Linked DNA regions of Homo sapiens. The protein of the gene in region 5 purifies or fractionates together with the protein of the main gene of each other region. This does not show direct contact. Each region holds a gene or a part of one and is shown on either strand. Other genes may lie near its edges.

Region 1 (4,099 bases), on a different chromosome or scaffold from region 5:
CCTACAGTTTCCCAAGAATAATTGATTCTGAGGAATTGTTGTATTTCCTGGAGTTTTGCTTTTTTCTTTAGAGAAGTCCAAGTCAGCCAAGGGCCAACAGTCTATAGGTATCTTCAGGATTTCCTCCTGATTGGTCCTTCTCTACTATGTTTCTACTTCCAAGCAAAGTCTGGTCTCATCCCAACCAGGAATATCTGTAGTTTTTGAGGTACTTGGCTCTCTCAGAAGCCCTTAGGGGAAAGCGACATGAAAGAAATAAAAAAGAGTGCTGTCTTGAAATGAAAATGACAGTCATCTTTTCTGAACAGGGATGATATTTGTAATTTCATAGAATTAAGAGATATCTGACTCTCTCAGAAGTCCTCAGAGGAAAAGTCATGCAGAAGAACTACAAAAAAAAGTGGTATCTTGAAACTTAAATTAAAACTACATAGAAAATCTTAAAGATGGTTAAGAGTACATTCTTGCTGGTGGGATAGGAAATGTAATCAAATATCTGGAAGTCAGAATTACATAGTATGTTTTCAAAAGAAGGATGCCAGGAACCCCCCAACAGCTGAAAGAGAAAGTTAGAGGAAAAGTTTCCCACGGAAGGAAGGTGTCCCAGCAACCCTCCAAGGGCAACATTTAGTAGACAATGTACTAGAATACAGCCTTCCATATGTTAAAAAAAAAAAATGTTTCAGAGCTGACCAAGAAGACTAGACAATAACAAACCAAAGCTGGGGGATTGTCCCAAGACATCTAAATCTCCTTCTCTTTCACCTCCTATCTCCAATTAACTAAAGACAGTGATTACAACAGATCTCATGCACTCAGATGGATGAATGATAACTCATTTTCCCTGGCATTCTCCTCCTCATTAATGGACCCAACCTCAAAATAACTCCCATGCTATTTCCATTCCCTTCCATTGTTTGAAAACAATAAAAAAGTTCCAGACTTACCTCCGCAAGAAACTTAATTTCCCAGGTCTCTTCCTAGCACAAGTTTCACAGCCAGCAGCAAAACAAAAACAAATAAGGAGGGGAAAATAATTAATTTTCAAGTTTTACTTTGAAACCTCAGAGGCCCATAGAATTAGACAATCTCGTTGCAAAAGTACACAGACAAGCCTAAAACCATTTAGAGAACTCACCCCCAACAAGTCTCCAGGCTTCCCTAACTCTCTATTAGTCAATTTACAAAAACAATACCAACTCCAAGAATTTCCAGTCTCAATGGCTTGCGGCAAGACAGCTCCCAAATTTAAGAACTTCTGGGAAAACCAATTACCCTCTGGCAGCTTCTCATCTTCCTCCACAATTCCTTATTCCTATTTTGTTACAATATTAACGTTAACTTTCACCTTTAGAAAAAACTGGGAGGAAAGTGGTTACAGCAGACCAGCACTATCCTCCAAATTCTACATTTGGCCCTTTCCCTTAACTAGCACACAATGAGAACAAAATATCTAATGGCGCAGCATCCACTCATACGTCTATGTTTCACCAGGGAAAAGTTTTTCTACATACAGTATCCATGTTACCCCCTCCCTTCCAGACTTAAAACAGCAAAAGGGTCTGGAAACTACAGCACTCATTTAATTAACCTGTCTAGATGCCACTCTATCTTTTCTCTTTCCCTCCTCAGACTTCCAGAGCCTCCACCTTAGCATATAGGGTTCCAATATAGCCATGTCTGCTCCCCCACTCTTGTATTGCTAATGCTAAAAACTAGAAAAGTCCTTTGCTCCTCCACACTTGGGCGACACCGGCTTCCCCATTTTCCCAAGCAGGAAAAACAAGGGAACAGTAAGCTAGGGAGTCTTTTGGAAAACAAACCCAGTTGAATTCTCATCCAACCCCAATTCTGCAAACCCACATGACCATTCCCTTCTGCCCTTCCCACCCTCTTAAAAGCTAAGGGCCTGGCAATTAGAATTGGCTGCAACTGATGCTGCTTAACTCTGTTCTCTCCTCCTCTCCACCGGGGAAAGGGAAACCCCCGAACCTCTATCACCCGTGCAGCTCCACTGTCCTATCTCCCATTCCACTCCCCTTCCTCCCAAACTTTCTTCCTCCCAGTCTCTCACTTTCTCCATTACCTCCTCCCACCGACACTCTCTCCATTCCCCAAGCCTCCGTTCTCTCCTTTTCCACCCAAATTCTCCCCTAGGCCCTTCCCCCTCCCACCTCCAATTTAACACTTTCGAAGCCCCCCAGAAACGTCTTAACTCCAATTCTGACCTTTACCCACCTCCTCGCAACACCCCTCATCAGAGTCCAGTCCTCCCTCCAACCACATGCCACAGCCCCCTTCCCCTTCACACCCTCAGCCTCTCCCTCCTGCTCCTACCCCCTTCAATACGAGCGGATCGCAGCCCCACTCCCCACCTCGGCCTCTCTAATACCCCTGGCTGGGCCCAGTCTCAGCCCTTGTTTACGCCCCTCCCCATGCCCTCACTCCTCCGTCTCGACCCCTGCCCTCTCCCGCAGTTGCCATCTCCCCTGCACGCCCCCCTCGGCAGCTCCCCTCCCCCACCTCTCAGCGTCCCGTCACCTCCCTCTCTTGAGGTTCTCAGGCTGGACGTCGCCACCGCCTCCCCCTCCACTTTCCTTCCCCAAGCCCTTTGCGGCCCCGCCCGGCCCCGCCCCGTCCCGCTCGACTCCCTCTCCCCACTCCGGCCGCCCCTCCGCCTCACTCTCGGCTCAGGCTCGGCGCCGCCATGTTGGATCCATCCGCGCCGCTCTCCCGGGCCTGCCTCACGGCGCCGCATCCGGGCTCCAGCAGCCGCCGCCGCCGCCGCCGCCGCGGCCGTGGGGGAGGGGACAGGCGGGCGGGGGTGGCTGCATCCTGAACGGCGCCTCCCGGAACCCGGCCGGTTAGTGGCGGCTTCGAGGCCATAGTGAGACATGAGCCGGAGTAGCCATAGTAAGTGAGGGCAGCCTGGCAGCGGCATTAATCGGGGAGTGGATAGCTTCACTTCGGGAGGAGAGATAGAGATTGGCAGCCATCTTGCTTTGGGGCAAGCTGGCAACGCCGGTTTGTCTTGACGGCTGCTTAGGGCGGTAATAAGGGATCGAAGAGGATAGCATTCTTGAATGGGAAACATTGGTGGCGCCACAGCTGGCTGGTGGCGACTTCAAGACCCACTGGAAGGCTGGGATTGGCAGCCATGACTCATAAGGGCGGAATACCACGGGGATCGGTTTGTCTGGCGAACTTGAGTGAAGGGTCAAGATCTGGATTTCACCTTTCCTCTGAGCTTCCTGATAACCCGGACGTTCCGTAAACCCGGATCCGGAGCCGAAAGTGGTGCCCAGATCCCGTCTCGGAATTCATTTGTTCAGCATTTACCTTTTGAACGCCGGTTTCCTGTAGGAAGTGTCGCCTAGCTGATCCGTGTAGGGCTGTTGGGAATTGGGGGTGGGGAGGATGGTGCGGGTACGTTCTGGTGTGGCTTAAGAAAGTGGTAATAGATAGGGGAAGACCAGATTATGCGAAGCCTTGTAAATTAATTGATTTTTATCCTTAAGGCAATGAAAAGTCTTTGAAGAATCTCAGCAGAGGTGTGAACAATTTCATTTGCATTTTAGATCGCTGCGTGCAGTGTGAAGGATGAATGAATTGAGGAGAATCAAGGAGAGCAGTTGTGAGGCTCTTTTCCAGGCAAGGATGATGATGGTCTGCCTGTGGAAGGGAGAGTGCGGATGGGGAGATACAGATTGGTTTAAGAGGTACGAATGTTGTGACTTGGACAACTGGGGAATAATGATACCAGTTTCTTTCTCGTTTAGGGGGGAGATAATGAGTTTTAGGTGCCCCTGGGATATTAGCTAATGTGGGTTGGGAACTCAAAAGAAAGGTTTGAGGTGTGTGTGCGTGTGCATATAGATAGCTGTTGAAGCCATGAAGTGGGCTGGAGAGGATACCTGCATTTGCGGGATAGGATGAGGGAAGCCGAAAAGAACACTGAGAAGGGGCAAACCGAAAGGAAAGAAGAAAACCATAGAGAACTATCAAGGAAACTGGTGAAAGCGTTTAGTGTAACAGAGATATAGTAAAATGCTAACTAAAATATATACATCAGGGCCGGGCATGGTGACTCACACCTGTA
Region 2 (3,500 bases), on a different chromosome or scaffold from region 5:
GTGAGCCATGATTGTGCCACTGCACTCCAGCCTAGGTGGCACAGTGAGACCCTGTCTCAAAAAGAAAAAAAAAGTACACATGAGAATTAAACAATCATACTGTATACTAAACGACTGTTTCACATCAAAGCCCTTGGTGAACGACAAGTCACATTAATTTTCAAAGTTGAGATCATGATTGAATTTCTTCTCCTCTGCCACCTCTCCTGACCTAAAGTATACACTATATCCTCTGTCTTCAATCGGTTTTATAAATAAATCATCTTTTGCTTATTACAGGATCATGCAAATAAAGTCAGTGTTTACAAATAAAAGTTATAAAGGCATGCACAATGGAAAAACGCACATCAAGGAAAAAAAAACAGAAAATTTGGAAAAGGATATCTGAAACAACAACTGGCTTCTTTTTGTCAGGACTGAAAGGATCCTTCCTCTTTTTTCTTGACTGAAGCTCATCATTCCACAGCTCTGGCAGGTAAATAAAGATTAAGTATTAGTGGGTTTCTGGTGAACAAAGGAGGAAAAAAGACTCTAATTTTATGGTGGCTATTTAGTTACATGTAAAAACGTAAAAAACTTCATTGGCAGCTGGGTATATATAGATTAAGCTGTACATAATTTCATGAGCACTACGTGTTTAAGTTTTGCTCTGCCTTTATTAAAGCAAAAATCAATTTGGCACTTCATGACTAAGAACTGATTACCATATTGTCATGCACTTTGTAAAATGTATATTACATGCATTGTCTCACCTAATCCCCAAAGCTACCACTGAGGTAGGTATTCTTATTACTTTCCTTTTACAGACAAGGAGATTGATTTAGAAAAGTGAAGTAACTGTCCATGGTCACCAGACTAGTAGGTGAGGGAGCACTGGCACTAGAGCTCAGCTTATCTGACTCCACCATGCCTACCCTATAGAGAACTAAACTTTATAACAGATAAAGTAATATATACTCAAGAACTGTAGGATAACCTAGTAGACCTTCCACTCAATGCAAAAAACCTTTCTGTAACACCCTGAAAAAGCCAATTTCACACTGGACTGATCTAATCATTAATAAGTTATTCCTTTTTCTGAAACAAAAATCTACCTCCCTATAACTTCTATCAGTTTGTCCTACCTTGTATGATGTCAAAAAGGTTTTCATTCCTTCTTCCACATAACAGTCTTTCAAGACTTACAAGGAAAAACATATACTATAGCTAATTTCCAATACTATTCTTTTTTTTTTTGGAGACAAGATTGCCCAGTCTGGAGTGCAGTGGCGCCATCATGGCTCACTGCAATTGCAATCTCGAACTCCTGGGATCAAAGGATGCTTCCGCCTCAGTCTCCTGCATAGCTGGGACTGTAGATATAGATGTGCAGCACCACATCCAGCCCTGACACTATTCTGCCAGTAGGTTCCTGTCATACTTCTGTTTCGTCCCTTGTCGTGTGCTCCATTTTTTACATCTTTCTAAAGTGTGAATTCAAATAACAATAACAATATAATCACCATCACTTTAGAGTTCTTCCCCTTTTCTCCTTTGCTGGGACATTTCATTTACATAATATTAATATTAGAAGACTGAGATACGATATGACACTACAGTAAACCAAAGGTCTGGTGCCACTCAAACATCACAATCATATCATTCTCCTTACCTGAGGTAATATCAATGCTGTGCCTATCCTCTTCAAGCCTTCTTATCTTCTCCTCTAGTTCACTCTGGACTGTATCATATAGCAACAGCTTTTCGCTCTGGGGAGAAAAACAGATTATACTTAAGTAGAAAGAAAAAAATTGGTGTATCTTAACTAAGAGTACCAAATAACTTAAAGTACTTTAATATATGATGCTTTGGTTTGCTTTTTCAATTCAATTAAAAATTCTAAAGAAGAAATGTCAAATACATGAAAGAAATAAAACTAGAAAATATAGAATCTATATATAGATTTAACTACATGCAATTACATTCTGTATAAGAGCATCTAAATTATGTCTGATGTACATTTAGAGGTAAATATTTACTTTATAAAAAACTCATAGCAAACCCCTATGGCCCCTTTTAAATTTAAGTAGGTCCCATCTGTCACCATCATGGAAAACTTATCCTATAAAGTATATCATTATAAAATGGATCATATTTTCTCACAGGAATAATAATTGGGTCATTATGCCTCACTAATATCTCAGCATCATATTAAAATAGGCAAAGAGAAAGATTCAAGTACAAATTTTATGATTATTTAAAATAATTCAATTATAGTCTAAATTATAAAATTACAGACTAATCATATCCAAATCTTTCTACAAAACCATAGACAGATTGAATTGCTACAACATACAAGACTGGCAAATAGACTAGAACCCAGGTCTACTAGCTCTAGTCCATGTTTTTAATTATATAATACTGTAGCCCTAATTTAAAAAGCCATAAAATGTACATAATATATAAAGATCAATTACACAAAAAAACCTATGGCCACATGTTTACCTCTAGTGAAGGATATTAGATAATTGGATATAGCAGATATGACTGTCTTGCGGAAGCTATTGGGATATAGTTGGATATGACTACATGTAGAAAACACAGGCCACACCCATGTAGGCTGCATTCCTGGTGTCAATCATGAAGCCCTCTCTCTTGAGTCTGAAATTTAGAAATTATACATGCTTGAAGGGTTTCCTGAGTGTCAGGGAAAAGATGGCTTACAAACTTGAGGCAAGCCAGGTGCTAAGGAGAAAGCAAAGCTGAAAACTAAAACTAGATTTCATATCAAACATGGTTTCATTGCATGCTGTTCTCTCTGCTTACTTCCTTTTGCTTGTTCCCTTGCCTTTAGTAAAGTCTTATGAAATATTCCAGCTTTATCTATATTGTGCTGCAAAACTCGGAAAATATCAGAGAAAAAGGGAGAGCAGTTCCCCTCCACAAGACCGTGGTAGCAGCTATAAATAGATCCAATCTCCCCAACCAAAGATGACTCTAAATACAGAGCTGGAGTGATAAGCCTTTTGCTGTTAAGGATATGAACATTTAATTGGTGTATTCTCTTTTCTTCCTATTGACAAATTAGGCCAAGCAGAAATTCTTTTAAAAATCCACTAATCATTCTTTATTATTTTTTAAAAAGCCACAATGAAACTGAAATGTTTGAAGCATTGAAGGCATCTCTAAAAATATCAGAAGTATACTTTAAACTGCCATGAATCCATTCTCATTCTTATTTCTCTTTCTTTTTCTTGGAAAGTTCTCTCCCTTTTCTCCAGCTTCTCAAGACACTCAAAAACCTCCCCTGAATGGAAAATGAAGCCCTAATGGAACAGCTAGAAGATACCTGGAAAAGAAGGGGGCTAACTCTCTTGCTTTGGTGGCTGTGGAGTTTTCTATGTTCAATAGTTACTTTGGTTTTTAAAAAAATACTACTCATAAGTATAGGTTTGGTCTCAAGATCCCACATCCCTCTAGTCTTCACATCTAGACTTACTGATCCTGCTCACTAATAACCC
Region 3 (3,500 bases), on a different chromosome or scaffold from region 5:
AATTTTTGTATTTTTAGTAGAGATGGGGTTTCACCATGTTGGCCAGGCTGGTCTCGAACTCCTGACCTCAGGTGATCCACCTGCCTTGGCCTCCCAAAGTGCTGGGATTATAGGCGTGAGTCACCATGCATGGCCCCCTGTGTTTCTGTAACTACTTAAAAAAACAAAACCTGAGGAAGTTTATTGATTAGTAAACATGTATATGGCTGGAGAGGTATGTGAAAAAGCAAATATAAAAAATGCTTATTATAGGATCTAGATGATGAACATATGGATGTCACTGTAGAATTCTTCCAGTCTTTCCATCGCTTGAAAATTTCTGTAACGAAATATTAGAGAAAAAGGTACCCAAAGCCCTGAAGTACATGTGAAAGTCACAACTAGTAACGTGATAAAAGTCTTTAAAGTCTGCGTGTTGCATTAAGGCTAGGTTGTGTTTGTTTTTTTTTTTCTTGCAGGTTAAGTTCAGTGAACTAACTGTTGACATGTTCCGGATGTTACAAGCTCTGGAAAGGGAGCCAATGAATTTAGCTTCCCAGATGAATAAACCAGGAATGCAGGTAATCTCCTCTTTTACATTTGCAAGTTTGGTAACCCTCTGGCTGCGTCTCTCCTGTTGGAACGCTGATTATTCAACAGATACTACAGCCTTGAATAAAGAATTCACTTGATGAGACATGGAGAAATAGATCATCACAGTAAGACTGAGTGTGAAAATAAGACTTCCTTGATAAGGGCTAGTGAAAATAGATATTGATAATTCATTTGTCAAATGCAGCTTTTATGTATAATGTTTTCTGTGTGTAAATATAGGAATCAGCTGACAAGCCTACTAGACGAGAAAACCCCCACAAGTATCTGCTCTACAAACCAACCTTCAGCCAGCTATATACCTTCTTAGCAGCGTCTTTTAAGGTATGTGTGATCCAGTACTTTTTACTATGAGGTGAAAGTGTGCCCTAACTAAAATCTAAGAGTCACTCTTTTGAAAAAATACTTAAGAGTTTAGGTAAAATATAAAAATGAAAAACTGCCTTTAGAGTAATGATCCTGATAATAGATATTTTTGTTTTGTTTTGTTTCTTTTTTTTTTTTTGTACTCCTGGTAAGCTGTGAAATAGCTGTTTGGGAATGAAAATTGCTTATGATGTTGTGATTATTCCCATCATTAATTAATGATAATAGTGGTTCTCCTTCCTCCAGTTTTTTATTACTCAATGATTTTAGGTGTAACAATGCAGAATTGGCCAGGCGTGGTGGCTCACTCCTGTAATCCCAGCACTTTGGGAGGCCAAGCCAGGTGGATCACCTGAGGTCGGGAGTTCAAGAACAGCTTGACCAACATGGAGAAACCCCATCTCTACTAAAAGAATACAAAATTAGCCGGGTGTGGTGGCACATGCCTGTAATCCCAGCTGCTTGGGAGGCTGAGGAAGGAGAATTACTTGAACCCGGGAGGCGGAGGCTGCGGTGAGCCGAGATCGCGCCATTGCACTCCAACCTGGGCAACAAGAGTGAAACTCTGTTTCAAAAAAAAAAACAGACTAAAAAACAAAAGCAGAGTGTCTAGGCTTCTTATATAGTCAAGGAGCTCTATGAAACATTTAGATCATCTGAAAGAACTGTGAGAAATAGGAGAATTCTTCCCAAAGTCTATGTAGAGAAAGCCACAGAAGGGACTTTGTCTTGTAGCCATGTAGTCAGGATCTTTACTTCTCCATTCAAGTTTTCGGAGAATATTCTCCAAATGATGGGGTTTTTGAAGCAGAGAATGTCTTTGCAACTTTTGACAATATAGATTAATAATGAATCTCTGCCGTGTGTATAGTTTTAAAGTCAGGACCAAGAAGAGCGTTTCTTCTCTTGGAAAAGACAACAGTGCATTCTTATTTATTTCACAACTTTAAGATGTCATGAACTTTAAATAAAACCATGTTGTTTATCCTTGTTTGTTGTTTTGTGTATGTGATTTTCTTTCATTTCAGGAGCTGCCTGCCAATAGCGTGCTTCTGATTTACCTGTCGGCCACTGGCGTTTTCCCCACAGGTCGTTCTGATAGTGAAGGTACAATAAAGGAATGCTCCCTGTTGTGAGCAGGGCTTGAATTCTCTTTATTTTCTACAAGACGATGGCCCGTAGCCCACAGACCATCTCAGCCTTTCTAGACAGACTTCCAAATTTGAAACCTGGTCTATTTGTTGATTGATAATTTTGTAGATACCCCAGTCTGTCATATTTTCTGAAATGTTATATGTCAAAGCCCATAAATCATCAGAAAATTCATATATTAAATGCTTGCTTCACTATCAAATGTATCAAAAGCATAATATGTAAATACATTTAGATATACATAAGGAGTTTGGTGTTTCAAAGTTGAAAAGGATGATGGAATAACCAAGCGTAATGATCTATTTCACATCATTGAATTTTTCTGAGCTTTCAGTGCATTGGGGAATCCGGTCAATGGCTACATGATGGCTGAAAGTCTTTGTAGAAATCAGTGTACTTTCGTAACTGTGAAAGTTCAAGCCCTTGTCATGATTTTGTTTTCTGTCCTTTATTTTGTTTTATGGATTCAATCTGTAGAATATCGGGATGCTGTTTCAGAATAAAAACGTAACACTGTCCAGAACATACCAGTCCAGAAATTGGTCAGAATAGATAAGTAACTTGGATGTAAATAAGATAATTAAATATTTGCCTGGGCAAAATAAAAAAATAAAAAAATTCTTAACATCCTTAACATTTTCCTCTTCATTTGTTTGTTGAAATTTGCATTCCTTTATAAAATGCATGTCCTTGCCATCTTCCTTGCATGACCTCCAGATTCTCTTAAAATGTTGAAATGAAAACAAATCTCTTTAGCCTTTTCATTGCAGTGATTTTTTTAAGAAGTGAAATATAATACAACATTAAAAGTAATGTAAAATCTTAAACTACTTTAGTTTTTTGTAATAATGTTAGTACTTTTATTTATAATTATCTGTATGTCTCATATACTGTTAAATCAAGTTTTCTTGGTTTCCGCTTAACATACTGACTTCTTTACTTTTTTCAAAGTATGATAGGTAATCGTACTTTGATAGGTCCTTTGAGAGAGATTATCTGAACATCCCACAGTTGCTGTTCCATTTGGACAAGAGTTTAGCTAATTCATATGAATTTAGTGGGAAAAGGCTAACTTCAGAACCAGAACTAAAGTGCTTGATACAATAGTGATAATAATGGATATTTGCACGCTGAAATCTGGCAATACATTCTTAAAGGTGAAGTTTTTGTGAATGAGAATTTTCAAATTCTATTCAAATATTTTTCTAAGTTTTACAGTTAGTGGCTCATTTAAAATTGTATTTACTTATGAGACTAAGATTTCATTCTTTAAAAAAAAAAAAGCTTATTTTATTCTGCAACTTCTTTTTTTTTTTCTGAGACAGGGTCTCACTCTGTCATGCAGACTGGAGTGCAATGGTGTGATCATAGTTCACTGCAGCCTGGGAATA
Region 4 (3,500 bases), on a different chromosome or scaffold from region 5:
TGTTATACATTTTTTCTTCCACATGTTAGAAATCTTACAATATGTTGTTACTTTTATTTTAAACTGTAAAAAAGAAAAAAATTATATTGATCTACATGTCATTGATGATAGTCTTCATCCCTTTGCGTAGATGTGTATTTCCATCTCGAGTCATTTCCTCTGCCTCCTGAAGGACTTCATATTTTGTAGTGCTGATGTGCTTAATTAACTCACTATACTTTCTCTCTAAAAAAAAGTTGTCTTTTAGGAAGGAAGAGATTTTTGCTAGGTGTGGAATGCTATTTTTTTCCCCTTTTTATATTTTAAAGATTTCACTCTTGTCTTCTGGCTGGCATTTTTTCCAACAATATGTTTTCTGTCATTTTTGTTCCTCTCTGTATTTTTAATACTTTGACTATAATGTGCCTTGGTTTGGTTTTCTTTGTGTGTCTTTTGCTTAGAGTCTGGTGAGCTTCTTGATTTTGTGGGTTTATAGTTCTCATCAGATTTGGAAAATTTTGTGGCATCATTTCTTCAACTAGTTTTTCTTCCCCTCACCCGTTTGTCCCTGATACTCAATTACACACACAGTAGTTCCCCCGTATCCTCAGTTTTGCTCTCCACAGTCAACCACGGTTTGAAAATATTATATGGAAAATTCCAGAAATAAACAATTCATCTGTTTTAAGTTCCATGGCATTCTGAGTTGTCTTCATCTTGTCACGTGAGGCGCCACACAGGCATCGTGTCATCGCATGCCACCACAAGAAGGGTGAGCACAGGATGTAAGATACTTTGAGAGACCACATTCACAAAACTTTTATTACTGTATATTGTTACAATTGTTCTAGTTTATTATTGTTGTTAATATCTTCGTGTACCAACTTCCTGTACCAAATCTAATTTATAAGTTGTATTTTATTGTAGGTATGTCTGTATAGGAAAAAACGTAGTATATGTAGCGTTTGGCACTGTCCACAGTGTCAGCATCCACTGGGGTCTTGGAACATGTCCTTTGCAGATAAGGGGGGACTCCTGTATATTAGGCTCCTTGATACTGTCCCATAGCTCATTGATGCCGTTGTTGGGGTTTTTTCAGTTTTTTTTTTTTTTTTTTTTTAACCATTCCCTCTTTCATTTTGTGTATTTCTCTTGCTTTATCTTCAGATTTACCAGTCTTTTCTTCGGCAGCATCTAATCTGCTCTTAATCCCATGCAGTATATTTTTCATGTTAGTGCATTTTTCATTCATGGAAGTGCAATTTACCATCCATCTTTCACTTTCTTTCACTTCTCTCGTTGCGTTCATGTTGTTCTCCTGGTTTGGGGTCATATTTTTCTGCTGCTTTGTATGACTGGAAGTTTTTGTTTTTTGTTTTTTGACTGGCAGTTTTTGACTACACACTGGACATTGTGTTTATGGGTGCTAGAGTTTGTTGTTTCCTTTAAATATATTTGGGCTTTGTTCTAGAACATGTTTAAGACACTTGGAATTTTTAAGCATTGCTAGAGTGGGTCTGGAGAGCCTGGGACTGTGGAGACAGACCTTGCTGTGAAGGCTTGACTTATGTCACTGTATTAAGGGGTCATTCCCCTCTCCCGGTGGACTCTGGCATTTTGATAGTTGTTTTACCTTCTCCTTTCACTAGTTCCCACTAGTGAGCCAGTAGAAAAGTCCCACTGGTTTTCTCACACATGAGAGCCTCAGTGCTCAGAAAAAGTCTTCAGGAGACCCTGTGCAAATTTATCACAAGGTCAATATGGCAGGATGCCCCTTTTTAATAGTAGCTTACTTCTTTTGTCTATTTTGAAATAGTGAATTCTTGCTTTCTATCAGGTGATAATGACTTCATAATTACTGTGGGGCTCTTGTTAATTCCAGCCTTCTTTATTCATTTCTGCTGCTCTAGCAGCATCTTTTAATTGGGCTTAGATTCTTGTGTGTGCTGGTTTTGAAGATGTACTGACAGTTCCTTTGTGTTTCCTAGTGTTTATGCTTATTTCTGTTTGTTTCAGATATGTTTGCTCTTTGTTGGAATCAGAATAAAGGACCTGTGTGTTGTATACTTTATCTTTTAAGATAGTTCTGAAAATAACCTAATTTTCAGTAGAAATCTTTGTAATAACTTGGCCAGGTGCGGTGGCTCATACCTGTAACCCCAGCACTTTGGGAGGCCGAGGTGGATGGATCACGAGGTCAGGAGATTGAGACCAGCCTGGCCAACATGGTGAAACCCCGTCTCTACTAAAAATACAAAAATTAGCCCGACGTGGTGGCATGTGCCTGTAGTCCCAGCTAGTGGGGAGGCTTAGGCAGGAGAATTGGTTGAACACGGGAGGTGGAGGCGGCAGTGAGCCGAGATTGCACCACTGCACTCCAGCCTGGGCGACAGAGCAAGACCCCGTCTCAAAAAAAGAAATAAATAAATAAAAATAAAGAAATATTTGTAATAACTTGTCTTTTTCTTGTTAGTTCTGAATTGACTTGGTAAGCTACATACTAGCGTAGAGTTAAAGGTAATTGTATTAACTATTTTTCTGTAGCTTTTTTTTTAAAGTAATCATTGTTATAAAAATAATACTGTAATCTATGAATGTTTGAAAATGCAGGTAACCGTTTCTAATTAGAAAATGAAATTTAAAATGCCACATTTCTGTCATTCAGAAGTTGCCACCATTAACATCGTATTGTTAGCTGTTTCTGTGTGTTTATTGTTCTTACCATGAGATTGTATTGATTAGCTATTTTACCACTTGCTTTTTTCACTTTTCTCTGTTCTGTCTTGTCATGTATTACATATTCACCTTATTTAATATGCAGTCCATACTCAGATTTCTTCAGTTTTACCCAGAACTTTTTTTTTGTTTTTTTTTTTTTTTTGAGATGGGGTCTCGCTCTGTCTTCCAGGCTGCAGTGCAGTGGTGAGATCTCGGCTCACTGCAAGCTCTGCCTCCCTGGTTCAAGCAATTCTCCTGCCTCAGCCTCCCATGTAGCTGGGATTACGAGCACCCGCCACCACGCCCAGCTAGTTTTTGTATTTTTAGTAGAGATGGGGTTTCACCATGTGGCCAGGCTGGTCTCAAACTCCAGACCTCAGATGATCCAGCCACCTCAGCCTCCCAAAGTGCTGGGATTACAAGTGTGAGCCACCACACCCGACCCCCAGAACATTTTTTACACTCGGTTTATGTAAGCCAGGATTTGTTGTGGACCCTGTTACATCTAGTGGTTGGGTTTGCAGTGCTTTCCCTGACTGTTGGCCAGACCAGCCTCTTGTCCTGCAGAGATGCCCCTCCTTCCAGATGTGTCTGGTACTTTCTTATAGTGTTGTTTCAGCTTAGTCCCCTGTCCCCTGAGCTTCTTTTAAATGAGAAGTTCTACTGAAAGGCCCAGTTGATTCAAGTTAAACATTTTGGGCTAGAATATATATGATGTTCTATGCTTCTTGTGTCACTTCAGGGACCCCAGTCATATTTTGTTGCTTCAATACAATAGATGGCAGTCTGGTCTTTGTGTGCAT
Region 5 (3,500 bases):
GGAAGATGAGCGATGGGCCTAATGGATTAATTGCAGTGTTAGGAAAAGGCACTGTGACTAAGCAAAAGCAAAAATAAAAGGTAAACATTTTGGCAGGGCGCGGTGGCTCACACCTATAAACCCAGCACTTTGGGAGGAGGAGGCAGGCGGATCACCTGAGGTCAGGAGTTCAAGACCAGCCTGGCCAACATGACGAAACCCCATCTCTACTAAAAAAAAAAAAAAAAAAAAAATACAAGCCGGGTGCAATGACTCATGCCTGTATTCCCAGCACTTTGGGAGGCCGAGGCAAGCGGACCACTTGAGGTCAGCAGTTTGAAACCAACCTGGCCAACATGGTGCAACCCCATCTCTACTAAAAATACAAAAATTAACTAGGAGTGGTGGCGGGCACCTGTAATCCCACCTACTCAAGAGGCTGAGGCAGGAGAATCACTTGAACCCGGGAGGCAGAGGTTGCAGTGAGCAGAGATCGCACCATTGCACTCCAGCCTGGGCAACAAGAGCGAAACTCCGTCTAAAAAAAATGTAAACATTTCAAACATTTCCTTGACTGCATACCTTTTAAGATTCTTCCTGGAGAAAACATAAGTGGTATTCATTACATTTTCACCAGATTCCACACATCCAGCTGGGGAACAGGGAAGGGAGGGAGAGGAAAGAAAAGTCACTGTTTCAGCAAACTGTTCACCAACAGAAACTCAAGAGCCTTCAGGTCCGGTTTGCAAAATACTTCCCCCTGCAGTTATATTCTCTGGACAATGTTGTGACAGAGCACAAAAACATATATTCCGGCACTGTCTGTTCTCAGCCCTTACTCCAGTTCTACCTACCTGTCATCTCCACCTACCTGTGGGCAATCCCCGGGGACCTGGTTCTGATCTTGGGCGAGGAGAACATAGTGAGCCTTTGCCATAGGGCACCGTTGAGCCTCCAGGCAATTCCTCGATTGAAGCACCGTGACTAGATTCAGCTGCCCAGGCTCCTTTCTCCCTAGGACCCTCATCTCTATTTCCTGGATTCCAGCCTTGGATGCCATCCAAAGGCTGAGACTCGCCTTTCCCCAACTTCCCTATCCAGCCATGAGGCTGCCAGGAGACCTTGCCCTCTGCTGAAACCTCCAGCCTCCTTCAGAACCTGACTTCACTCTGGGGAACAGTCCCCATCTGAGAGCTCTTCTACACTCACCCCCTGCTGTACTTAAAACAGTTCAGCCCTGTCAGAGTGACCATCATACACTGCTGCTCTTGGAAACATCTCCCTGTTTTATGCTATTTCTTGATACATATACACACACGTAACTTTACATATGACTGTTTCATATCCACCAGGGAGGGCAGTAGACAGTATCAATAGTCTTTTTTATTATTATTATTAATACATTCTACATAGCTGCCCTCTTTTTTTTTTCTTTGAGATGGAGTCTTGCTCTGTCACCCAGGCTGGAGTGCGATGGCGTGATCTTGGCTCACTGCAACCTCCACCTCCCAGATTCAAGCAATTCCCCTGCCTCAGCCTCCTGAGTAGCCGGGATTACAGGCACCTGCCACGATGCCCGGCTAATTTTTGTATTTTTAGTAGAGAGGGGGTTTCACCATGTTGGCCAGGGTGGTCTCGAACTCCTGACCTCAAGTGATCTGCCCTCCTCCGCCTCCCAAAGTGCTGGGATTACAGGCGTGAGTCACTGCACCCAGGCCCCTCTTTTCATCCCACTCCATTCTTCCATCCCCAAGAAATCCATTTTAACATTCAACAAACCATTATGTCATCTGTATATTTCCTCCATGCTCACATAATCATTACAATCAGTTATAACTCAATCACATGTATACCTCTATGATATTTTTTATTGAGTCCATTTGTTTTACAAAACTGACACTTCTCCTTATTTTGCTTGTTTCAATCAACTACTCATGAAAGTTAACTTGCATAGCACTGATGCATTATTTTTTTGTAGCTGCATAATATTTACTGCAAGATTCATTCACCCAGCCTCTGTTAATGAGTATTTTTTTGGCTTTTGGTTTTTTACCACTATAAACAATGCTTGCAATAAGCATCCTTGAACATATACTTTTTTTTTTTTTTTTTAGACAGAGTCTCACTCTGTTGCCCAGGCTAGAGTGCAGTGGTGCGATCTTGGCTCACTGCAACCTCTGCCTCCTGGGTTGGAGCGATTCTCCTGCCTCAGGCTCTTGAGTAGCTGGGATTACAGGTGTGCATCACCATGCCCGGCTAATTTTTGTATTTTTAGTAGAGACAGGGTTTTGCCATGTTGGCCAGGCTGGTCTTGAACTCCAGACCTCAGGTGATCCACCCACCTTGGCCTCCCAGAGTGCTGGGATTACAGGCTTGAGCCACCATGCCCAGCCAGTTTCCAGTCTTAATTGGGTCTTCTCCATTCCTAGAATGTCCTCCTATATTTCCTTACAAGAGTTTTCTATTTTTACCTTTTGTGTTTAAGTACTGAATTCACCTGGAATTTATTTTTTACATCTAGGCAAGGGGTCCAATTTTACCTTCTTCCACATAGCTGGCTACCCCAGCACTACTCATTCAATAATAGAGTCCTCCCTTTGCAAGATCCATCTCTTGTACAACATGGTGATTATGGTTCATAACAATGTATTATATTCCTGAAAAATGCTAAGAGATATAAAGCGTTCAAACCACAGAAATCCTAATTATGTGAGACCATGCTATGCTAATTAGCTAGATTTAGTCATTCCACAACATATATATACTTCAAAACATCATGTCATACACAACTACATACAATTTCATCTGTCAATTAAAAAAAAAAGGAGGCCAGGTGCAGTGGCTCACGCCTGTAATCCCAGCACTTTGGGAGGCTGAGGCGGGTGGATCACCTGAGATCAGAAGTTTGAGACCACCCTGGCCAACATGGTAAAACCTCATCTCTACTAAAAATACAAAAATTAGCTGGGCATGGTGGCCGGCGCCTGTAATCCCAGCTACTTGGGAGGCTGAGGCAGAAGAATCACTTGAACTCAGGAGATGGAGGTTGCAGTGAGCCAAGATCACGCCAATGCTCTCAAGCCTGGGCGACAAGGGTGAAACCCTCTCAAAAAAAAGAGGAATAGGTCTTTGTCCAATCTCAACACTTCCCAACCTTCTTAATGACATACTCTTGTCCTATCTGCCTTCAGTGTCTAATTCTCTTGAGAATTATTTAAGTAACATACAATTAATTACAAATAAATAATAGATTTTTTTCCACTGGAACAGCACCTGAGGTCATATATTAAATCGCCTTATATCCTGAGATCTTTTTCTGGATTCTGTGTTCTGGTCCACTAATCTATTTGTTTGGTCCTATAGCAACACCATATTGATTGGCTAAAAGTAGTGTTATAGGATCTTCTGATATGTGGTGAGGCAAATGCCCTCCCAAGTATCACTGTTTTTTTTTTAATACTTCTTTGGCTATTCTTCAGCATTTATTCTACTAAACAAAGCTGAGATTTCATCCAATTAAA
Region 6 (3,500 bases), on a different chromosome or scaffold from region 5:
AGATTCCCTCTAACAATTTGAATCTATTTTCCCATACCCAACAGGCGGGTCCTTAATATAGTTTTATATTCGATGAGCTGCTAATACCCTATATACCCTATTTAAAAATCTGGGTCAATAATGTAGTAGAAAGAAATAACACTTTTTGTGATAAGAATATTTTATAGTAATTTGGTTATTTATGCTAAACATCTCCTCACTTATAAATTTTTTCTTTTTTCTTCTTTTTACATTTAATTTTTTTTTTTCTCCTGAGAATGGTCACTGAGGGAAAACAAAGAAAAACAAAGTTATTTTTCTAAATGCAGTGTGGTATCCTGAATTGGTTTCTGGAACAGAAAAAGGATGTTGGTGAAAAAACTGGTAAAATCCAAATAAAGCCTGTAGTTTAGTTAATAGTATTGCACTAGTTTTGACAAATATACCAAAGTTACTATAAGATATTGATGTTAGGGAAAGCCAGGTGAAGGGCATGTGGGAATATGTACTATCTTTGCAACTTGCCTGTAAATCTACAACTTTTCCAAAATACAAAGTTTATAATAAAAATTTTAAAATTTTGACCCTAACTTACCATTCCAATATGTACTTCCCTCATACAGTGGCAGCCACTATAATTAGTTTGATTATCCTTATGAAACCTTTTAAATATACTTTTAATGTATTCATAGAAAATATTTAATATTGTTAAATGTATATATATTTTTTCTTTTTCTAAATGTATGTATTCTAAAAATTACATTTGTAGTATCATTTTCATGGTATTGTGCCATGTGTCATTCTGTAATTTTTTCACTGTCTTTTTTTGAGATCTGGCCATGTTGATTGATTGAGATAATCGGATTCAGTGTTTCATTTCTTTTTACTATTGAATAGTATTCAATTTTATATCATTATTTATAAATTCTCCCATTTGGGAGCATTTAAATTGTTCGTAAATTTTTACTTTGACAAATAATGCTGCAGTGAACATCCTGAGCATGTTTGTATAAATTTGCAAGTTTTTTTCTAGGACAGATGCCTAAGATGTGGAATTGCTGGATCGTAAATTATGTACATTTAAAGTTTTTAAAGCAGTACCAAATACTCTCCGAATAAATTGAACTGGGACCATGCACAGTGGCTCACACCTGTAATAGCAGCACTTTGGGAGGCCGAGGTGGGCAGATCACCTGAGGTCAGGAGTTCAAGACCAGCCTGGCCAACATGGCAAAACCCCATCTCTACTAAAAATAGAAAAATTAGCCAGGTGTGGCGGCACGTGCCTGTAGTCCCAGCTACTCGGGAGGCTGAGGCATGAGAATAGGTTGAACCTGGGAGGCGAAGGCTGCAGTGAGCCGCGATCGTGTCAGTATGCTGCAGCCTAGGTGACAGAGCAAGACGCTGTGTTAAAAAATTTTTTTAAAAAAAGGAAAGAAATTGTACTGGTTTATATATATTAGAGTTCCTATTTTCCAAATGCCTCCAACTCAGTACAGAACCAACCATCTAGATTTTTGCTAATCTGATATATAGAAATAGCCTTGGCCGGGTGCGGTGGCTTACGCCTGTAATCCCAGCACTTTGGGAGGCCGAGGTGGGCGGATCACGAGGTCAGGAGATCAAGACCACCCTGGCTAACACGGTGAAACCCCGTCTCTACAAAAAATACAAAAAATTAGCCGGGCGTGGTGGCGGGCGCCTGTAGTCCCAGCTACTCGGGAGGCTGAGACAGGAGAATGGCGTGAACCCGGGAGGTGGAGCTTGCAGTGAGCCGAGATCGTGCCACTGCACTCCAGCCTGGGCAACAGAGCGAGACTCCATCTCAAAAAAAAGAAAAAAAAAAAAAAAAGAAATAGCCTCTCACTTGTTTTAGTTGGCATTTTATATAAGAGCAAAGTTGAGACACTTTTCATATGTTTAAAAATTATTTCTTTCCTTTTCTGTAAACTGTTTATGCCTTTTTCCCATTTTTCTATTGGATTGTGGGTCATTGTGTTACTAGTTTATAAGAATTTTGTATATATTAAAAATATTGGCCCTTTGGATGTTTATAATGGCTGTAATTTTTTTTAGAGTTTATAGTTTGTCTTTTGATTTGTTTCTGTATTTTTTAACATATGGGATTTTAAAATATTTTAAGGATCAAATGTAACTTTGTTACCTTTTAATGACTTCTTGAGTTTGTCATGCTCAGAAAGACCTTTTCTACACTAAAATTTATCATTTTAGAATTCTCTCATATTTCATTTTTTTGGTTTGAACCTTCAGTACATCTGGAATTTATTTTGCAGTAAGGGATGAAGTAAAATTGCAACCTAGCTTTCCCACCCCCCCCCACCCCCCCCCCCGGAGGACTACTTAGTTGTCCTAGTAACATTTATTGGGTAATCCATCTTTTTAAACATTGATTTAAAATGCTGCCTTCATCAAAGCTAAATTCGTATAAGTATTTGGGATTACTTTCAGGCTTTCTATCTCTACATCTAGCATATCTCTATATGTGCTAGTATCAAATTATTTTGGCTGGGCATGGCAGCTCATACCTGTAATCCTAGCTCTTTGGGAGGCTGAGGCAGGAAGATCGCTTGAGCCCAGGAGTTTGGGACCAACCTGGTAACATAGCGAGAGCCCGTCTCCACAAAAAATGCATGAATTAGCCCAGTGTGGTGGCACATGCCTGCAGTCCCAGCTACTTGGGAGGTTCAGGTGGGAGGATGGCTTGAGCCCAGGAGGTCAAGGCTGTAGTGAGCAATGTTTGCACCACTGCACTTCAGCCTAAGTGACAGAGAGAGAGACCCTGTCTCAAAAGAACAAACAAAACCAAAACACACACACACACACACACACAAAATTGGTTTAACATGACTTTATACTGTGTTTTAATGCCTGGTAAGATATTATCACATATTCTTTTTTTGAGATTTTTTTCCTTTTCTTTCTTTTTTTTTGACATGGAGTCTCACTCTGTCGCCCAGGCTGGAGTGCAGTGGTGTGATCTCTGCTCACTGCAACCTCCGCCTCCCAGGTTCAAGCTAGTCTTCTGCCTCAGCCTCCTGAGTAGCTGGCACTACAGGCACAGCCACCACGCCCGGCTAATTTTTGTATTTTTAGTAGAGATGGGGTTTCACTATATTGGCCTGGCTGTCTGGAGCTCCTGACCTTGTGATCCGCCCATCTCGGTCTCCCAAAGTGCTGGGATTACAGGCGTGAGCCACTGCGCCCAGCATAAGATTTTTTCCTAAATATTTTTGTGCATTTATTTTTCCATGTAGACTTTAGAATCAACTTGACTAGGAAAAAAAAATCCTGTTGGCATTTTGACTGGGATTGGACTAATATTATAATTTATGGGAAATGATATATATAGGTAACATTGAGACTACCTAAGAACTGATTGTAGTTCCACTTAGTTCATAGTATTTCACAGTAGACTTAATTTTTTTCCATATCAGTCTTGCATGTTTCGTAAGTATATTCCTACATATTTAATTTTTTTGTTTATGTCCATTTTTGTGCTG
Region 7 (3,500 bases), on a different chromosome or scaffold from region 5:
CTTAAATCTTAAAATACAGTATCATCTTGTCTCAAAATATTTTCAGTGTCATGGTATAGTAATGTAATAAACACTCCTCTCTTCACTCACAGGGATCTAGAAAACTGTATTTTGTGCTAGTAGCGTATAAACTTTCTCCCCAAAGTAAGCAGAATTTGGGAAAAATATATAAACATATGCACATATATGTGAAATAGTTTATTAACTATTAAAAGTTGATATGTATTCTAATTTCTCAATAAATTGTAAAAGGTCAGGGAACGTGTACCATATACAGGCAATAAAACTTTGTTTCACTAAAAAAATCTTAAAAGATCAAAAGATATATACATCATTCTAGATAAAGGAAAAAATAAAGACTATTTATTTATTCAAAGTCACTTTCCAACCACAGAGTAGAGAATACTTGATTGCTAATGAAGGATGCATAATTAATAACCCAGAAAACTTACAGAAGAGTTCATTAACATAAACATAAGAGTTAGATAAATTCAGACTACAAGCTGGAAGGAGGCCAAAAACTTTCCATTTTATATTATCCTCACTGGAATGTTATTTTTAGAGTTGTTAAAACATTGCCTACCTACATTAGATGTGGCCTTAAACATTAAGTCTTATAAAATAGCTATCAACAACCAAAAAATATATTTCATCTATACTTATTTTTATAATATTACTGCAAAAACAACCCCTCAGAGGAAAAAAAAATCCATTTCAACCACCTGTTAAATTCTTGAAAGATCCAAGGTTATAAGAGTTTAGTTAAAATTAAAGCTAAAATATGTATTTTAGTAACTAAAAATTAAATAATTAAATGTATTATAGCAAGCAATATGTAAGTATAACTAAGATTATGCTGCTTAAATATGTGATATCTTCATGCATTGGACAAATATTCTTCCCTTTAAAGTGTATTGACATATTACACATTTCATTAATGTGTAGCATTTATTCATATGTCCAAAGAAGGAGAAAGAAACAAAAATACGTCAATCTGGCTTTGTGACTGGATTTCTCTCAGGTCACAAAGCCACAGTGGTATTACCACTGATATTTTCACCTCATAAATAAATATTTCTAGCTTAAAGCACTTTATTATGGGACAGAGAGCACCGAACCAAAATGAGATGTGACTTCTAGTCCTAACTATGACATATAGCTTCCCTGATCCTTTATTTCCTCATCTGAAAATGAGGAGGTTAATTTATTCAACAGAAAATATTGTGATAGATTGTATATTAAATTATTTTCCAATTCTAAAATCAATGATTCTCTATGCATTATATATATACATGTATTTTTTCATCTTTAACATCTCAACTATAAAAATTAATTACAGCATTCACTATCCTATCCAAGACTACATTTACCATTTTCTCTTCATATTCTGGGTCCATTTCCTTTTCAGATTTAGGCGCTTTAGCAGCAAGTTTGAGTTGAAATGAAGAAACGTTTTTCTAGAATTTCAAAGAAAATAAATGTCACCAAATTGCAAAGCAAGGTTCTTAAACTGGTCAATGCTCTCATTAGAAGAAGGCGGAAAGTAATTACATAACTAAATATATAAATCAATGTGGGACATGTATGGACCAATGATGAGAGCATGTCACAAAACAAGGCTTATGATTAATCCAGTTCTGTACACCTGAGGTCCAATAAAAAAAATCTGAAAAATTGTGAATGCCAAAGAAATATTAATTGGAATAAAACCCAAAAGGCAAGACACTGAGCTTTCTCATCCATTCTTTAATTTATAGTGTAAGAAAATGTGTAAACATTAAATAAGAGATTTTAAAATCTAGAAAAGGCTAATATCAACCACAAACCAAATAATTCAAAGAAAGTAAATATTAATTCTAAGAAACACTCCTTTATGTCATGGAAATACGCCACACTTTCAGAAAAAAAAACTGTGGTTTCTGTTCCTAAAACGATATTTTTAAAATTGTTTTCATAGTATTATAAGAATATTTAATTTTTTATGTAATGCAATGTGATCACATATACTTAATATAATAGTACAGTTTTAAACTTTTGGCTTATGTTAATTTTCTCTAACTGGGAAGAAAACTACTTTAAACTATTTATATTGCATAAACATCTTGTAGAAGCAATTTGTCAAGGCTACTTAACTATTAATGTTTGATATTTTTAAATTGTAATTTAGCGAAAACTAACATCAATCAATAACTTAATATAGAGATTATCTGGGGAAGGGGGTTATCTCATGCACCCTATCCTTTGTAAAGACAAGCCTGTACTGGCAAATATAAATACATATATAGAATAAGCCTCCTTCCCTATAAGAAACCAAGAAATAAAATAATAAAAACACAAATCTACCCACCAGAACCAAAGATGAGAGCATTTCAGTTTTAACACATACTTTGCATAAGAGAAAACACAAATTTGTTCGTGAAAACTATCATGGCTTTTGTCAACCTATTTATGAAAACTTAGGTCAAAAATCAACAGAATGTGACCTTAAACATAAGAAAAATATGGCCCCCATTATGTCTTCCAATATTTACTAAAATTTCTATTTTGAGGAAATCCAAACTGAGATTATGGAATTTGACCTTGTCCAGACTCTTACTTTGTAGCACTGATCAGATATCATTCAGTTACACTAACCCAAATAATAACCATCTTGATTTACAGCATCTGATACGTACACATCTATATGGAATGTTTTGAATGTAATCCTGGATGGATGAGAATAGAAAACTGCTAAAGAGCCCCTCAAACTCACACTTTCAGACTGCCATATATAATATAAATCATATTTATTTTCAAAGCAACAAGAAAAATTGGGTATCAAATCCATACGTTTATCATTCATTCCTTGAAAGGTTATATGAAGTGCAGTTTTCCAGTATCAAAACAATGAAAATTACTTTGCCTCATACGCACAAATATATATAATAATGTGGGAAGTACACTTACAGAAAATTAAAGCTTTAATCCTAGAAAAACATTTTACCCATTACTTTTTTGCTTACCTTGCGGTAGACTACCATCAAAATCTAATTATATGCTAATTAAAATCCTAATCTTGAGCAGGGCTATTAAAAGCTGTGGGTAATTACTTAATTGGCACTATCTTCCACAACAAATTTTAAAATACCTACCTTCTAAACCTTCTCTCGTGTGTGTGTGTGTGTGTGTGTGTGTGTGTGTGTATTCTCAAAACTACATTTTTTTCATACAAGAAAAGATGAAAAGTGACTAAGAGACTCTAATGAATTCCTTTGGATTTTGTTATCTGAGTCTAGGTGCCATGAGAATGCAGCACAAGGTCAACAAAATGGCTTGTTTTAAAGACCATGACCTTTTTCTTGACGTTTTCATGTCTACAGTGTTGGGTAATCCAACCGTCACTTAAACCAACTAAATTCAACAACCAGAAAGTAAGCAAAAACACCTTTGAGTAGGTAAATGTCACAGGTCAATTCACTAATTCTCATCTACTGTATTCATCATGAAAGCGCTCTCATTCA

What was found.
Region 1: the proteins of CHAF1B (region 5) and DEDD purify together in Homo sapiens (affinity purification with mass spectrometry; one large-scale study listed by BioGRID and IntAct). This does not show direct contact.
Region 2: the proteins of CHAF1B (region 5) and BRMS1L purify together in Homo sapiens (affinity purification with mass spectrometry, with the first as the bait; one large-scale study listed by BioGRID). This does not show direct contact.
Region 3: the proteins of CHAF1B (region 5) and SCAI purify together in Homo sapiens (affinity purification with mass spectrometry, with the first as the bait; one large-scale study listed by BioGRID). This does not show direct contact.
Region 4: the proteins of CHAF1B (region 5) and ADNP2 purify together in Homo sapiens (affinity purification with mass spectrometry, with the first as the bait; one large-scale study listed by BioGRID). This does not show direct contact.
Region 6: the proteins of CHAF1B (region 5) and LIN9 purify together in Homo sapiens (affinity purification with mass spectrometry, with the first as the bait; one large-scale study listed by BioGRID). This does not show direct contact.
Region 7: the proteins of CHAF1B (region 5) and SMARCA1 purify together in Homo sapiens (affinity purification with mass spectrometry, with the first as the bait; one large-scale study listed by BioGRID). This does not show direct contact.

What each region holds. Positions count from the first base shown.
Region 1 is NC_000001.11:161,129,868-161,133,966, forward strand, and holds the start of DEDD (death effector domain-containing protein), read right to left. Parts: upstream 2,801-4,099; 5' UTR 2,684-2,800; intron 2,580-2,683; exon of another isoform or gene 2,524-2,579; intron 981-2,523; 5' UTR 948-980; intron 1-947. UniProt on the Homo sapiens protein: A scaffold protein that directs CASP3 to certain substrates and facilitates their ordered degradation during apoptosis. May also play a role in mediating CASP3 cleavage of KRT18. Regulates degradation of intermediate filaments during apoptosis.
Region 2 is NC_000014.9:35,860,838-35,864,337, reverse strand, and holds part of BRMS1L (breast cancer metastasis-suppressor 1-like protein), read right to left. Parts: intron 1,749-3,500; coding exon 1,652-1,748; intron 469-1,651; coding exon 385-468; intron 1-384. UniProt on the Homo sapiens protein: Involved in the histone deacetylase (HDAC1)-dependent transcriptional repression activity. When overexpressed in lung cancer cell line that lacks p53/TP53 expression, inhibits cell growth.
Region 3 is NC_000009.12:125,000,529-125,004,028, reverse strand, and holds part of SCAI (protein SCAI), read left to right. Parts: intron 1-458; coding exon 459-560; intron 561-813; coding exon 814-915; intron 916-1,985; coding exon 1,986-2,064; intron 2,065-3,500. UniProt on the Homo sapiens protein: Tumor suppressor which functions to suppress MRTFA-induced SRF transcriptional activity. May function in the RHOA-DIAPH1 signal transduction pathway and regulate cell migration through transcriptional regulation of ITGB1.
Region 4 is NC_000018.10:80,126,262-80,129,761, forward strand, and holds part of ADNP2 (activity-dependent neuroprotector homeobox protein 2), read left to right. Parts: intron 1-3,500. UniProt on the Homo sapiens protein: May be involved in transcriptional regulation. May play a role in neuronal function; perhaps involved in protection of brain tissues from oxidative stress. May be involved in erythroid differentiation.
Region 5 is NC_000021.9:36,405,892-36,409,391, reverse strand, and holds part of CHAF1B (chromatin assembly factor 1 subunit B), read right to left. Parts: intron 632-3,500; coding exon 562-631; intron 19-561; coding exon 1-18. UniProt on the Homo sapiens protein: Acts as a component of the histone chaperone complex chromatin assembly factor 1 (CAF-1), which assembles histone octamers onto DNA during replication and repair.
Region 6 is NC_000001.11:226,288,665-226,292,164, reverse strand, and holds part of LIN9 (protein lin-9 homolog), read left to right. Parts: intron 1-3,500. UniProt on the Homo sapiens protein: Acts as a tumor suppressor. Inhibits DNA synthesis. Its ability to inhibit oncogenic transformation is mediated through its association with RB1. Plays a role in the expression of genes required for the G1/S transition.
Region 7 is NC_000023.11:129,516,991-129,520,490, forward strand, and holds part of SMARCA1 (SWI/SNF-related matrix-associated actin-dependent regulator of chromatin subfamily A member 1), read right to left. Parts: intron 1,658-3,500; exon of another isoform or gene 1,586-1,657; intron 1,458-1,585; coding exon 1,371-1,457; intron 1-1,370.